2 separate regions of the Homo sapiens genome follow, and region 2 is linked to region 1. The links come from fine-mapping of genetic effects on gene expression. A gene starts in region 1. The other region holds a variant in brackets. All regions are shown on one strand. Distances are from middle to middle.

Region 1 (8,332 bases):
CAGGCTTTCCACCAACCCAGCCCACGGGGTGGCCATGCTACAAGCCTTTTGAGTCCTGCATCCCAAGAGGGGCAGCTTCTTGGCCTGAAGTTGTCTAATAGAGCCTGCCTGGCTCCAAGCAGGCCTCATCTCTGCTCTGTCTACTGGATCTGGGCTCTGAACTGGGGTGGGAGGTGGGGAAATGGGGAGGCTGGTTCAGGCTACCACTTCCTCTCCTCACCATTGGATAGCCAGCCTTTCAAGGAAAGTAGGGGGCCAGTTCTGTGGCATAGAACAGTATAGTTCTTAGGCCCTCCTATTTCAGAAAAACACTCAAGCAGTGTTTTCCCTCTGCTCTCACACCACGACAACAGTCATCAACACAGAAGACTTCTGCGACCAAATGTAGGGGATTTTCCCCCACACACCAAGCAGCGGGCACCAGCTGGGTGTCCTCCAACTCAGTTCCAACACTATCTACCTGGAAAGAGTGTCTGATCCCACAGGTTGAGGGCTCAGTCAGATTAAGAGATACATACGCGACGTCTGGAAGATCCCGAGCACAGGACCTTCCGTCCTGATAGGATAAGTTCTTCTTCACCTTCCTGTTTGCCTCCACGTGTTCAGCCCTCCAGAAACTCCCTGAACCCTGTCCTTTGGGCCTTTTATGGAGATTTCATTTGTTGTCCATGACTGAAGCATGTGATTGAACAAAATGTGATTGGACAAAAAGGGTATGATCTAATCTCAGCAAGGTCTGTCTGTCCAGATTCTTCTTCCTCTCTTTGTGCAGCATTCCTTCCTCCAGGGTATGGGGCATGACCTCCTCTGGAATGAGGGTCTTATGACCCACAATCAGATTATAGAGTCCCGCCTTGGGTGGATGAAAGGAGGGCAAAGAAGGCCAGAGAAATATTCTGTTTCCTGAGGCCTAAAGCACCTCTACATTATAGCAAAAGACCTCAGCAAGTGTCATGGGAGTTATGGACAAGAACCATGGACAAAAATCTATATACATGTAATCATAAGATCACACCCCCCACCACACACCACATTGTTCTACATAGAAGTGCCTTCACTATACAGCTTTTCATTTATTCATTCGTTCATTCACTCATTTATTCAACGGGTAATAGTGAATTCCAAATCAGGAACTGTGCTATGTGTTGGGGGTGACATGGCCCCTAGCCTCAGGAGGCTTCTATTCCATGGTTAATGGTGGGTATTGCTGAGAGATGATCAGTCAACAGTAACTGCAATGAATGTTAGGATAAAGAGAAGCCCAGAAGGCTCCACGGTGTTCCAGCTGCTCACAGGGTAATCTGCCTGTCTTTTTTACTTCCGTATCTCCAATGCCCATTATCATACCAGGCACAGGAAGTGCTCAGTTAAGTGTTTACTGAATTAAATGAAGATCTGAATGATGCTGAGTGTCAACCCTCCCTCTCAGTGGCTCCTCCCCATTGGCCCTAAACCTGATACCTGGATGAAAAGAGATAAGGATACATGACAGTTCTTCAAGTAGGTCACAGAACGTTTGAGTTGGGAGGAAATGGACAAAGCTTTTTACATCACTGCCATCCCCTCCCAGTCATCATATCCCCACAGTGGGGGTACTTTATGAAACACTTGGACCTTCATGCTTTCCTAATTTCTTCTTATCCTGTATGCTCTTCTAAGAATACTGAAGTTGGTCAATGTTCCTATTAAAACTCAGGAATCTAAACTTTGACTCAGAATTTCTGATTGAGATGTCACTTCAGTTTCCTTGTGCATTCTCAGAGGCTCTACCCTGGCTCACCCTGGAGAGTAGGGGGCAAGAAGTCTGATACTACTCAGCTTTCTCTCCTGTGCCAAAAAATCCTACCTGCAAGAATTGGTATGTGTATTAGTCCATTCTTGCCTTGCTATAAAGAAAAGCCCGAGACTGGGTAACTTACAAGAAAAGAAGTTTAATTGGCTCATGGTTCCACAGGCTGAACAGGAAGCATGGCAGCACCTGCATCTGGGGAGGCCTCAGGGAGCTTTTACTCATGGAGGAAGGCAAAGCAGGAGCAGGAACATCTCACATGGTGGGAGCAGGAGGAAGAGGGGCCAGGAGAGATGCTACACACTTTTAAACAACCAGATCTCATGATAACTCACTATCATGAGAACAGCACTGAGGGGATGGTGCTAAACCATTCATGAAGGACCACTCCCATGATCCAGTCACCTCCCACTGGGCTCCACCACCAATACTGGGAATCGCAATTCAACATGAGATTTGGGTGGGGACACAGATCCAAACCACATCAGAATGTGAATCTTTGGGGAGTAGATGGTTACAGAGCTCCTACCATTAAGTCAAAAGGAGCTTGCTCTCTGATCATTTTACTGGTCTCCCTCAGGTGCTGAAACAGTGTGGTCTCTGATAGAGGAAGTCCTTTCTCTATAACTGCTCCAGCTGGCTCATTGGCGGGGAGGCACCTCTTCCTTGAGTTATTGGGCTATGGAAACAGCAATCCTGCCTTCTGGTTGGGTCTCCCAAATGGGAGACATCCAAACAGAGTGATTTTTTTTTTTTCTTAAACAATGTCAAACCCGAGGTTCTTAACATGGGGCTTGAAGATTGCTGTCTACGTTAGTTTCCCATAGGTCCTGGGGCCCCAGGGAAGCAGAGCCATTCTAGGAGAAGCTGAGAAAGATCTTGAGTGAAGAGGTTCTCTGAGGAGACTCAAAAGTGACTCTGCATTTGGTTGACAGTGACCCTCGAGGCAGAGCAGGTATTGGGCAACATAAAAGTTGTGAGGAGTAAATGAGAGGCATGGGAAAACATGTTTTCCTAGGGCTAGGTAAGAACCCAACCATGGCCCAGCTCTCCAACCCTTAGGCCAGAAAGCACCTCCTCATGGTCTTGGGACATGCTCAAAGCCTCCCAGCTGAGTAGCAACAGAGTGGCTTTAGAACTAGGTCTCCTGATTCCTGGGGTTTTTTTCCTCACCATCCTGCCATTTTCCAGATATGGATCTCATCGGAGAGTTCCTGACTTGTCAAATCCTGGAACTCTCCTTTCAAGGACGAGTCCTGTTGGCCAGGCAGTCCTGGGCTTTTCTGGTTCTGATGGGTGGCCTTTTTTGCCTTCCAGTGCCAAGTGTCTCCTTGCCCCTATCCATCCCCTTCCTGGGAAAGATCATCTGGGGTCTTCAGTGGCCTCGTGGAGCCTCATGGCCATGGTGGGGAGTGATGCGCAGCCTGGTGCTCGGGCCAGGACCAGACCTCCCATGGACAGTGGGCACGTGCCTTAGCATCTGGGCATGCTGATCTTTTTCTCCAAGAGGGCAGTGTGGGGGTAGAAGGGGGTGGAATCCGGAGACTTCTCTCCATAAGAATTCCTGCTCTCCCCCTCAGTCTGACCCTTGCTTTGCCTGTCTGGGCCACGGCAATGCCCTCAGGCAGAGCAGTGGGAAGAGGAGGAGAGGGTTTGCTCAGCTGGCGGGACTCTGGGAGCACGAGCCCTGCCAGCCCCTCCTCCGCAGGCTGCCTCCACTGGCTCCTCTCCTGCTTCTGCCCGCCTGTCCCTCTGGGCTGCTCGGGCGCCACCACTACTGTCCCCATCCCGCCCCGCCAGCTGGGCCAAAGGGTGACTTGACTCACGACGCTGCCACCAGCCCACGGCTTGCCCGAGGCGTATAAAGGCTGCCAGGGCCGCAGGCTGCCAAGCCCTGCCCTGCCCAAGGCGCATAGAGCATGGCCCGAGGCGCTGAGGGAGGCCGTGGGGACGCGGGTTGGGGCCTGCGTGGCGCCCTGGCGGCCGTGGCGCTGCTCTCGGCGCTCAACGCTGCGGGCACGGTGTTCGCGCTGTGCCAGTGGCGCGGGCTGAGCTCGGCGCTGCGGGCTTTGGAGGCGCAGCGGGGCCGGGAGCAGCGCGAGGACAGTGCCCTGCGCTCCTTCCTGGCCGAGTTGAGCCGCGCGCCGCGCGGGGCGTCCGCACCACCCCAAGACCCGGCCAGCTCAGCTCGCAACAAGCGCAGCCACAGCGGCGAGCCCGCGCCGCATATCCGCGCCGAGAGCCATGACATGCTGATGATGATGACCTACTCCATGGTGCCGGTAGGCGGGGTCTCTGTTCCCCGTGGCGCCCCGGCCAGGTGGGCGGCTGGGGGTGTGGGGCGAGGACGCCGACGCCCTCTTCTCCCCTGGCCAGGCTGCGAGGTGCTGCGGAGAGGGCTGTGGGCATGAGTAGCTGGGGATGTCACCTTGGCAAGCACCTCAACCCACTGGAGTCTGTTTTCTCATCTGTGAGGTTGGGGACAGGGTGAAGGAGGGAGTCTCTTCTACCTCTGACATTCTTTGAGTCCACATGTAAACGAAGGGCGAAGGCAGTGTTTCTAAGAGCCTATTTTCCTTCTCAGCTTAGACAAGTTTTCGTCTCCTGGTGTGAATGGAGCCGCAGCAGCCTTGGGGCTCCGCCTGTGCCACTGACCTGTGGGTGGGGCCCTCTGAGAGGATGGAGGCGCGTTTCTGAAAGAGCGTAGGCTTTTTCAATAAAGGGATTCTTTCCCTGGCATCAACTAGTGGTCTGGCTTTTCACCTGGCATCGCCTCATTCCTGCGAGATGGCCGGCCTAATTGTTTCCGTTTAAGTGAAAACAGCCCTAGTTTTACTGCCCACCTGGGACCTAGATGCTGGGAAAGTTGCCCCTGGATCTCAAGCAATTCCAAATGAGGGACGTCAATATGGTGCAATTTTTTTCTTAAAATGCAGTGTCAAAGCTGAGGTTCTTAACATGGGACCTGCGGATTGGTCTCCCCACTGGGCTCCAGGGAGTACACGGAACTGCAGAAATTGCCAAGTGTGTGTGCCTGTGCCCTCCTGCCCATGTGGATGAGGGTCTGCAGCTTTTCACTAGATCTTCAAGGGGTCCCCCATTGCATGCCTCCCCCAAAAGGTTTAAGAAACACTGCTCTGAAGAAAGTCTTCAAAGCCTCAAAGATTTGTTTTCCAGTGTTAAGTTTCTTTGCTTTTGCCGCTTTTAATTCAATAGGTATTTAACAAATACTATTAGATCACATTGCAGTTCCCCATTCCATTTCATTATTTATTACAATTGCAACAGTCTTGTTTCACTTTATAATTAGAAAGATTTCGGCTATTACCTCCAGTCAAGTGTGAGCCATACTTCAGAATCCTAGGTATTTGAAAATAAATTGACTTAAACTTCCGTTATCACAGAAGCTTTTAAATAACTTACATGAGCTGAAATGCTTTTAAAACTACGTAAAAGTACTACATACTTCAAATACATCTTTTGAGAGAGATCAAGTTTTCCATTCCTCACTTCATTTGTTTTTTAAATTCATGTTATCATTTAAAAATCTGGACCTAAGCAGAAGTTTCAAAAAAGGACTGCTATAAGATGAAAAAAACCTCCTTAGGGGAATTCATTCTCGCCCTTTCAGCTCTCTACCCTACATTTTAAGGCTTTTAAAAAATCCTCAAAAAGGGATACATCTGAGCATCATTGTTTTACATTTTTAATCCTGCTTTTAAGGTAGAAGCTTTCGTATCCGAATTGCAACCTATTCCGTCACTAACAAATTGAATGGAGACACTCATCTCTGTGTCAAATTAACTCTAGGTGACCTCGCAGTGCTACCACTAACTCTGTTACAGGTCAGAGAGCAGAACTATCACATGTGTCAGACTGGATATTATTAGTAGATTATCATCAACTAACTCATCCCCCACCTGCAATGGGTATGTTTTGACCTTTTAGAGTCATGAGGGCCTGTCCCTGAGGCTAGGAGAAGGCAATCATCTTACTACTCACTTTCCTCTTGGGAGCAGTTCTCAAACAGTAGGCTTAGGAATCAGCTGGAAGCATATTACAGTGCAGATTCCAGGGCCTCTCCCTCAGACCTATAGAATCCTCTCCAGAATCTGCTTTATTAGAAGTCCTCTGACCCTCATCCCCCCACCTCCTATGCCATTGGTGAGTTCGGTGCAGATGGTCCAGGCACCACACTTTAAGAAATACTACTCAGTCTCTAACACTGAGTCTTTATTGTGCACAGGAATATCTTGGGGATCTTGTTAATATGCAGATTCTGATTCAGATGGTCTAAGCTGGGGCCTAAGATTCTGCGTTTCTACCAAGCTCCCACTGCTACCAATGCTACTGGCCTGAAGACCACATTTTGAGTAGTAAGGTTGCCTACTGGAACTATTTGGGGAGCTTTCAAACTTACTGATGCCTGAATCCCATCCCCAGAGATTCTGAATTAATTTGTTAGGCCACAGCCTGGGGATGGAGTGCTTATTCTCCAGCAGGAAGGACCTTGGCATAACTTCCTATCGATAGTAGCTGTGTTAGGCATCACACTCCCACCAGACCCCATCAAGGCCTTTGCTTCAGGACGAGGAGCCAATTTTATTACTGAAAAGCTTTTTAATTTATGACAGCAATATTCTTTCCATTCAGCTTCACAGTTTTCCTCATCTTTACTCTCTGCTTTTCTCAGAACAATTATTCATATAAGAAAACAATTTTATAAAAAACATCATTTGGTAGCTCTTGGAGAGAAGTTAAGAGAATGATCTAGTATATATCGTGGAGGCAAGTGTATACACTTCTTATAGGTGAAGGCTACACCTTCCCTGGCCCTTTTATACACCACCAGATCTTGAATGAGAGTGAGATCCAAGGTCCTCACTGTGAGGTCTTATGTCCTTAGAGGTCTAGGAACGAAGAAACAAACTCTATGCAGACTAATGTCAACATTTCAAAAAGCCTTCCAGAATGGTTCATTTATCCAAGATGAACCTCAATTTAACTGATACTTTGAGTTTCTCTACTGTTGGCTGAAAATACATCAACTCAGCATAAGAATTCTGTTTAGCTGAGCACATTCTTACCAGAACCTGGTTGGCAGCTGTAAATGACTTCATTAAAAAGGCAAGATAATTATTAAGTACAGTTAATTTGACACAGCCAAGAAGCACATTAAATCTTTAAAACCATGTGCATACTTTTGGGAGACAGTAATAAGAGGAGCCCTGGATGGGGCTTGGAAACTACTGAATTAGGCCAATAAGGAAATGGGGATCTGGTGAGCGGGGAGAGAGAAAATTTGACCCATCTGCTACTAACTCCTGTGGGAGATGCTACTTCTGTTTACTCTCTTTTTCTCTGACCTCCTCTCATATTCTTTTTGTTCTCTTCCCATCAGCTACCCTCTCTCATTCCTCTCTTCCTGTCTCACATTTGCTGATGTTCTGGTAGCTTTATCATCCTGTCTTTACTTGTCCAAAATCTAGGGTCAAGCACCCAGAGGGAGTTTCATAAATATTTTCATAAATTAAACAAACATAGAGAAGATATAAGACACTGAGACTGGTGATTACGTATCCATGATAATTGTTGTCCTTGAGGGACTGTATGCATTTCTACGCCCAGGATATTGTTCAAAATGTCCTTGGCACCTCTCTAACAAGAAAATCAGCCTGGCTACTTTAAAGCAGGAGTTACAATTCAAATGTTCTTTTAAGGAAGGCAAATATGATTCCATAATAGTCAAATGATGAAAAGGCATTTGATAAAATTTAACATCAATGCTTGATTTTTAAAACATGCAATAAAATGGGAATCAATGTATTCTTTCTTAACATGATAAAATGTAATTGTGTCTCACCCCCAAAACTATAGCTTTCCACTGAACTGTCAAATCCTGGAGATGGTCCTACTAAAATCAGTATTAAGACAGGGATGCCCACTATCACCAATAGTATCTCGAATTGTCCTAGGAGGACCAGCCAGAGCAACAAGACAAGGGAAAATGGTCTAAATATGTTAAGAAGTGAGAGTCTGGCTATATTCAGATCATACGATTATATACCTGGAAAATCTGTTGATAACCTACTACTAAAAATAACAGAATTCAGTGGGAAACAAGGTATTAAAATATTACTAAGAAATCAATAGACTTCTTATACCCAAACAATCATCTGTTGAAAGATATAATGGAAGAAAAGATGTGCAAAACCTGTGTGTGTATCTATATACTTACCTTTTGTGTTAAGAAAGGGCTGGGGGACCACTCTTGTAGAACAGAAAATATTTAAACCAAATGGTAAAAATAGTATGTTTTTGGATAGAAAACTTAGCATCATAATAAGTTAACTGAAAGTTAACTTAGAAATCTGATGTCATCCCAACATAAAACTATCAATAGATTTTTTTTTCTGGGATTAGACAAACTGATTCAAAAGTTCACATGGAAAAATAAGCATTCCTGGCAAGGAAACCGCTGAAAAAGAACAAGGAGGAACACTAGGTTCTACAAGATATTAAAATATAATTAAAGCCTGAGTA
Region 2 (8,332 bases), 26 kb before region 1:
GAAAGGACAGGAAGCTCTGTAGAAAACTTTTCATTTTCAATAAATGCATTTCCAATTTCATCATGTTTTCCAGATGCTAAGGCACAGAATATAATGCCCCATTGCCTTGGACTCTGAGTTTGGCGTCCAGTCTGTCAGACTATGTTAACTCACCCATATATGTAAACACATTAACAAGCACCGTTTGCATAGCATTTTACAGTTTACAGAGCAGCTCCAGATGCATTACATCATTTCATCCTCCCAACCTCTGAGGTTGCAATCATCTGTTTCCTCAGAAAAAACAGTCTGAGAGAAGTGGAGGTTTTCCTCCAGACCATCCAGCCCTAGCTTCTCTGGCTTCCAAATTTGTCCTCTTTCCCATCACCAAGAACCAAAGTCCTGGGTAATGCCGGAGCCACGCTGTGAGCACCAGCCTTTGGGCCAGGGGCCGATTATCCCACATTTGCAGAACAGGCTGGAGAAGATTCAGATCTTCTCAGCTCATTTCTCCAGATAGAAACATGTTGCTGAGAGCTGGCTCCAAACCCTTCTCTCCCGCTTCCATTCCCTCCTTTGCCCTGAGGCAGATGGCTTGGCTTGGAGAGGCTCTCTGGTGTTAGACGCAGCAAGTTTTTCTTTCCCACACCCCATATATGATGGCTCTTTTGAAAATATCTTTCCTCCCCTCCCTCCAGCTGCTTGTGAGGGTGCAGGGCTTTAACTCAAGCAGACTTGGGGATGGATGGGACTCCTTCAGGTTTCACTGTTGACTGGCCTTGAAGAGCTTTGTGGCTTGGCCCCCACTTGCTCTCCTCTCTGCCAAGGCGTTGTGGTTCCCTCCCACTCTTGCACCTTCATGTGGCCCCCACTCTGCCCTGGTGTGCTGGAGGTCATCTTCCCTCCCTTCATGAGCCATTTTCAGCTCATTTTTTGGGCATATTGTCTCTTCATTTGCAAGAAAAAATACAAAGTAGTCTCTGTGAGTGTGATGATTCTGAGTCATTGCATACTGTCATCATTCTAGAACAAAAAGATGTCAAAAGGTGAGTGGATTGATTTCATCTGCAAGGGAATAGGCCTTCTCTTCTTTGTTTTATTCTCTTCTTTGTTTTACCCTTGATGACTCATTCAACCTGAATCAAAGCTGAGTAGTCTTGGCCTTCAAATAGGAGGCTGGGGTGGTGGGGAGCAGAGCAGAGGCACCACCTAAACTGGGGCCATAGGCCTGAACCTTAGGAGCCATGTTCTTATGGCATGGAGCCTGCAGAAGGGGCTGAGAAAATAGAGAGGTAGCATGCAGAGCCCTTGCTCACGTTTGGACCTCGGTTTTCCCATCTATAAAAAACTTAAGGCCAGGCACAGTGGCTCATGCCTGTAATCCCAGCACTTTGGGAGGCTGAGGTGGGGGGATCACTTGAGGTCAGGAGTTCAAGACCAGCCTGGCCAACATGGTGAAATCCCATCTCTACTAAAAATACAAAAATTAGCTGGGCATGGTGGCGGGCATCTATAATCCCAGCTACTCAGGAGGCTGAGGCAGGAGAATCACTTGAACCTGGGAGGCGGAGGTTGCAGTGAGCTGAGATCATACCACTGCAGTCCAGCCTGGGCGACAGAGTGAGACTCTATCTCAAAACAAACAAAAAACCTCAAAAGGATCACACAAGAGCAGGTTGGGAAAGGGCTGGGGTGCGTGGTCTCAGTGTAAATATTTCCCTGACTGACTGTGCTTTCCTACCTTGGAATTGGAACCTTGATTCAAGAAAGGTTCAACGCTCACCTGGCTTAGGAACCTGGAGAGATGGAGAGAACAGGCTTTGCTGTCAGACAGACTTAGGTTTGGATACTCCCTCTCCTCCTTCCTCGCTGTGTGACCCTAGAATAATTACCCAACGTCTCTGAGTCTCGGTTTTGAGAGGGTGAGTAATTATTCTAGGGTCACACAGCCAGGAGGGAGCAGAGGGAATATCCAAACCTAAGTCTTCCACGGCCTTGGATTCATGTAGTCTCCCTGATGGGTTTGCTGGCCTCACTCACCAGTGCGGCCTATGAGGCAGGACTCTGCAGGAGCCTAGAAGTAGTGAAGCAACACCCTGGGACAGCAGCTTTCAACATGGGGACTAGACCACAGCAGGAGGCCTATGAGAATAAAAGTATTGATTTTGGGAAAGAGGGACTTTTTGCCTTTATCATGGTGGAAGCCAGTATCTGTGGAGTCTCAGGCATGTTGGGCTTTTAGTGGTCCACAGACCCCCTGAGGTTCCTACATAGGTGGCCCGGGGGTCCATGAAAAGCTCTGTGCCATTCTGGGAGAGTGATGAGATTCATCTCTGTAGTCCCTCCTTTCAATAAGAGTTTTAGTAACACCCCCTGGAGAATCAGTTCTTTGGGACTCTCCCAAGAAAACCATGACCAAATCATGCTAAACAAATCACACACTGTTCTGCCTTAGAACTCTAACTTGCATCATTGTTTAGCCTGGAATGTCCTCTCTACCCACCAAAATCCTACCCATGTCGGAGACCCAGCTCCAATTCTAACTCTTCTAGAAAGTCCTTCAAAATCTCTCTAGCCCATTGCAATTTTTCCTTGCTCAAAACACATGGTCATGCCACCATTTTCTTCCTGGAGAATGGCTATTGCTTTTGTTTGTCAGCCTCTGTCTTTGTTTCTTCATAAGTGTTGGTTTCCTCCATTTTCCTCATTTCCTACTTCCGACCCAGTCTCCAAACCTGTTGGTTGTACCTCTTAAAGATGTCTCAAATTCCTCAACCTCTCTGCACCTCTCTGGGCTGTTTCCTGGTTCAAGCCACTGTCCCTGGCAACAGCTCCTAATTGACCTCTCTGAATCCGATCCTGCTTGCTTTCATCCACTCTCTACCCCGAGGCCAGAGGACTCTAACATACAAATCTGCTGCTTCAAGCCCTTTATCTCACTGGCCTTGAGATAACACAGAAACTCTCCAACAGGCCTTTCAAAGTCCTTCACTTACGGGCCCCTGCCTACCTTGCTGGTTGTGTTTCTCAACACTCCCCACCTTCACCACCACCGTCACCCAGGCCTGCTGCAGTCCGGTCAGAAGGTTATGCGTGCTTCTGCACATTCTCTCCATGGGGAGTACACTTCCGTCCCAACTGCCAGACCCCTCATGGTGCATGCTTAGCTCACACATACTCAGTCTTCGGGTTTCCACTGTAATGATATCTCACCCACTCAGCCTTGCCCACCCTACCCCAGTCTACACCCAGAGTACCCCCTCCCCTCCCCATCACTGCAATCTTCATTTCATTTTGTAGTTGCTTGTTTACTTGCCTCTGTCCTTCACTAGACTACAAGCAATTTTAGAGCAAGAACCATATCTGCACAGTTTACTGTTGTATACCCAGTTATATGGTTCTTGCTCTAAACCCAGTGCCAGGCTCAGTGTCTGCTGTTGGTAGAGGCTCAAGAAATAATTCTTGAATAAATGAATGAAAAGTAGAATGAACCTATACATCCAGGCCCTCAAGGGCAGTGACTATTCCTCATGCTTCCCTGGATCTCCCTTCAGTGCCTAATTCAGGGCCCTGCAGATTCTGGGTGCCAAGGAAAGGAAGTGATTGTTTGCTCTTAGCAAAAAGGCCTCGTTATTTTAATAGCACGCTCCTCTATTTCTTCATGTTTCCCTCTCTTCAGATGGAAACTTGAACTACGTGCTGGCAAGAATGTGGCTGACAACACGGTGACCTGGATCTGCCTCCAGGGGTGCTGGCAGAGCAGGGCTCTCACGCAGGGTTAGGAGATGCACAGAATTCAAGGCTTCCGAGTGACAGTTAGCAGAACCTGAATGGGCTGCTCATCAAGGAAAAAGCCCTGATGGAGTCCAGGAACTCAAGTCCCAGTTCTGGTTCCTTCGCCATTCAGCTGTGCCATCATGGGCACATCACTTAGCCTCACTGGAGTTCAGTTTCCTCAGTAGTAAAATGTGGTAAGGTAAGGGGAAGGACTAATAATTTATCTTCACTTACAACT[C/CT]TGAGTTATTATTCTATGAAAAAAATATGTTGGCTGGGCATGTTGGCTCATGTCTCTAATCCCAGCACTTTGGGAGTTTGAGACAGGAGGATTGCTTGAGCCAGGAGTTCAAGACCAGCCTGGGCAACATAGCGAGATCCTGTCTCTACAAAAAATAAAAAAGAAAAAACATGTCATCATATTTCCACTAGAGGTGAAGAAAAATTGGGCTGTTTTCAACCTAAAAGTCAGGACAATTAACTTATCTAAAATGAGTTAAGTGTTTTGTAATAATAATCTCATATATTAGATAGGGCTTTAAACTTCTTAGTGAGTTTTTATATTTTTGGTTCTTTCAGTAGCTGTGGCAGAGGCACTGTATGGGTTGTGAATATCTGTTCTCCCAGTCTCCCCTATCAATTTTATTAGAAATGGCAATATGGCCAGGTATGGTGGCTCACCCCTGTAATCCCAACTCTTTGGAAGGCCGAAGTGGGTGCATTGCTTGAGCCCAGGAGTTGGAGAGCAGCCTGGGCAACATGGGGAGACCTCTGTCTCTTAAAAAAAAAAAAAGGAAGAAAGAAAAGAAAGAAAGAAGGAATGGCAATATGTGCAGTTAAAAACTATATTCCCCAGCCTCTCTTGCAGCTGGATATGACCATGTGACTAAGTTCTAGCCAAAAAGCTATAAGCAAAAGTGTCATGTGCAGCATTTAGGAAGCCTCCCTTAAGGAAGAGAATGCATGCTTTGCCCTTTTCATCCTTTGCTGGCTAAATGAGAATAAGATGTCTGAAACCCAGGCAGCCATATGGGACTATGAGGTAGGGTGCCAAGAGTGCTGGTGTGGCAAGACAGAGGGAGCATGGGTCCCCAACACAAGGAGCCACCTTCCCAGTCCTGGGCTACCCTCCTTTTAGGATTCTTTTGGCATAAGGGAAAAATCACTTCTTTTTTTTTTTTTTTTTGACAGAGTCTCACTCTATCGCCCAGGCTAGAGTGCAATAGCACATTCTCAGCTCACTGCAAGCTCTGCCTCCCAGGTTCACGCCATTCTCCTGTCTCAGCCTCCCGAGTAGCTGGGACTACAGGCCTCCACCACCATGCCTGGCTAATTATTATTTTTTTTGTATTTTTAGTAGAGACAGGGTTTCACCATGTTAGCCAGGATGGTCTTGATCTCCTGACCTCGTGATCGGCCTGCCTTGGCCTCCCAAAGTGCTGGGATTACAGGCGTGAGCCACTGCGCCCGGCAAGAGAAAAATCACTTCTAACTTGCTAAATAAATATTATTTTTGTTTTCCTGCCCCAAACCTAATCCTAACTGAGAAAACAATGATCTGCTTTATGCAAGCCCCTGTGCAAGATGCTGCAGGGGATGCAAAGGTATATGGGCTTTAGATACACAGAGATTTGGGCAAGAACATTCACCCCCACACAGAATGCAAGAACATTCTGTCTAGGGGTGAAAGAAAGGCCCAGAAGAGTTTGATATGGCAGAACCATGTGGGCATGAAGAGGACTCATGGGAGCTGTGGTGAGGGAATATGATGGAAGGTTCTTGAATGCCAGGCTAATGAGGCTGGAGTTCATCCTGTGACAGAGCAGATAATCTTGTTCCAATGTACAAATGAAGAAGCCCAGACCTCAATAGGTTGAAGGACTTGTCCAAGGTCACCCAGCCAGGGAGTGGCAGAGCCCATCTCAATTCTCCTGACACTTGGTCCAGTGCTATCCTTCAATTCTGTGCTCTTTGAGAGAATCTGGGGCAGACGGAGTATAAAGATTTCACACTTTGACACAGCCAGGGAACACGACTGTATCTCCCCACCCCCATCACACCCCAACATGTTCAAGAGGGGGCTTTGGGTGTTGCTAGAAGTGTAGGATCTGGACCTATCCTTAACTCAGAGCACTCTCCCTGGGCCTCCTGTGTAGCTCCCCTCACAAGGCTGTCACAGCTGGGGTGCTATCCCACTGTGTAGTAAGTACCAATGTGTCTAGCACAGTGCTCGGTGCTTTATGTACATGATCTAATTTACTGCCCTCAACAGTCTAAAAATGTAAAAAAAAAAATTTACAGGTGAATATGAAGAAACTGAGGATCTAAGAAATGAAGCCACTTAATTAAAGCCACTCAGTTGATAGCAAAGTGGAGATGCAAAGCCATGTTTGTTCAGCTCCAAAGATAAGTTCCAACAACCACATTCTAACATCTTCCTGATCCCTGCCAAAGCACAGAACAGTCTCTTGTCCCTACTCAGACTCCAAGGACTTACCTGGTTTGATGGGCTGACCAGTGCCAGGGACCTCCTGTCAGGCTCCAGTTGGTCACGTTCTACTTGGAGCCAGGAGCCAGTTTCCCATCACATCACTCATGCCCCGCCCATGACCCCACATGGGTCAGGGATCTCCTGGAGAGGGGGCAGGCCTCTGCCTTCTGTGACCTCAATCTTCCTGGGACTCTTAGTCTTGGTTGGTCATGGGGCAGGGGTGTCAGAGTTTTCCCAATCTAGTTTCTAGATTTCACAGATTCCAGAGGGCTGTTTCCTGGGATCAAGGACACTTTGTTTTTTGTGTCCTGACTGTGGCTGTCATGGTTAGAATGCATTCATTATGAATCGAGCTGACATTCTTTCAGGAAACAACTGGTCATTAGAACAGAATCTTCTCTCATTACCAGCATTTGGAAAGTTGAGTTTCATTTTGTCGGTCATTCAATGTGCATCTTTCCAATAATGTGGTATGTCCAGCATTCCAGCATGAACCACATATTTCCCCAAGCTGACCATACAGCTTTCTTCTGGAACTTTCACAGGAAACACCCTGAGATGTAGCCTGCAGAGCTGAAGACGACAGATGAACCTCAGCCCCTCTGCATTCATTGCGCAACTATGAGGGGACAAGCACTTTGCCCTCAGTTGTCGTCAGCCCACACTATTCCTGTCTGGCACAGCCTTCCTTCCCATTGGCCAAACTCTCACCATTCCTTTTCAAGCTCCGCCTAAGTGTCTCACCCCTACACCCTTTCCCTTAATCAGGCTGAAGTTGGAATGTGTTCACCCAATTTTATTACAACTAAATATATTCAGCTTAGCCTAAGCTTTAGCAGATTTTAATAGTTATTAATGGAATATTCATCTATTTCCCTATACGCACTGTAATCAACATTCCCATTCTCAAATGCACTACTTAAAGTATCTGAAGATCAGACACTTTAAGTAATTTAAATTTATGACAAAGTTTTCTGAAGATATAAGCAGATCCTGTTAGATACAGATGCACATACAATTCTTATGAACAATTTCATGCACTGTAGCATGATCAAAATATCTGACCAGAGCCTGTCACTGCACCTTGTAGACATTCTTACAAACAGCTCTTATCTAATCCTCATAACCCATCACCTGTCACCCATAAGGGACAACTAAACCATGGATCCACATGATTACTGAAGGCTTGTTTCTTCATTGGCTGCAGGAATCTCATGAAAATCATGTCTTCATATATAGCAAAACTTTGGGCTTATGCATCCTTCTAGGAAGAATAAGCAGTTAATGGGCATGAAAGGCCTTTGAACCCTATGTAGCCCTGCACGTGTGCAAGCTGCTCTTTTAAGTGGACAGCAAAAGACAGTGGCAGACGTCAGGCTGGGCTCCAGATCCAGCTCTACCTTAATAGTCAGGTGATCTCTATCAGGTCATTTGTATTCTCTGAACCTCAGGTTTCTTGTCTGCCAATGGAAATTATAATAATGCCTGCCCTGCTGTGAAGTTCAGATGAGCTCATGGATGTGAACACCTTCTGAGGGTCACAGAGCGACACTTGAATGCCAGCCATCATTTGTTCACGTATATTAACTCTTACTTTCTACAACACTAGGAGATAGATATCATCCCCTCCTTTCACAGATGTGGAGACTCCAATGAGTAGACCTTTGAGGATCTGACCTTCCAACTCAAATCTCCCCATCCAATGCTCTTCCCCTCTGTGCTCAGGCACCATCCTCGGCTCCCATCCCTGCTCACAGCTGCATCATGTGCATACTGTGAGCATCACATTGTATAGTCTTACCTTAAGTCTGGGGTCCAATCAGTTGTCAAGAGCCACACACTGGGAAGAGGGAGATCAAGGAAAACCAGCCAAGCTCCTCCCAATATGAGGATGTTTGCCAAGTTCCAGGGAGCACCTGCTACCCCCAGCCCTGGGTGAAGTAAGCACTGGAGAGAACAGACAGGATACAATGGCATTGCCCTGAGAAGGCTTTTTATCTGGCTGAGGCAAGGACTTAGAGACACAGGTAAGCAACAGTCAAGTACAAAACAGCACATGGTTAGGTGCCAGGTGAGTGAGGAGACCAG

Which allele goes with the higher level. Positions count from the first base shown, and alleles are read on the strand shown. Sizes are in standard deviations (SD) of each study's normalised expression.
As copies of CT replace C in region 2, the expression in sun-exposed skin of the gene that starts at base 3,679 in region 1 goes down (small effect, 0.32 SD a copy in GTEx).

What was found. PIP is the estimated chance that this variant, and not a neighbour inherited with it, causes the effect.
Region 2: its variant is the best candidate, but not a certain one, in a credible set for the expression of GLDN in sun-exposed skin (GTEx, PIP 0.57).

Annotation. Positions count from the first base shown.
Region 1 is chr15:51,337,977-51,346,308 of GRCh38, forward strand. GLDN (gliomedin) reads left to right here and starts at 3,679. Exons shown (of 10, transcript NM_181789.4): 1 at 3,679-4,071. The coding sequence starts at 3,709. CYP19A1 (cytochrome P450 family 19 subfamily A member 1) reads right to left here and starts at 620. Exons shown (of 10, transcript NM_000103.4): 1 at 519-620. RefSeq lists promoters at 545-1,122, 545-863, enhancers at 784-863, 2,667-3,030 and cis regulatory regions at 815-832, 897-926, 2,720-2,763, 2,836-2,860.
Region 2 is chr15:51,312,183-51,320,514 of GRCh38, forward strand. All of the region lies in intron 1 of CYP19A1 (cytochrome P450 family 19 subfamily A member 1), which reads right to left. MIR7973-2 (microRNA 7973-2) reads right to left here and starts at 1,925; the gene lies at 1,850-1,925. It overlaps MIR7973-1 (microRNA 7973-1), which reads left to right and starts at 1,852; the gene lies at 1,852-1,927. It overlaps LOC112268146 (a long non-coding RNA gene), which reads left to right and starts at 7,746. Exons shown (of 2, transcript XR_002957708.2): 1 at 7,746-8,332. RefSeq lists promoters at 6,341-7,026, 6,341-6,820. The variant C/CT (reference allele first, on the strand shown) is at 3,995.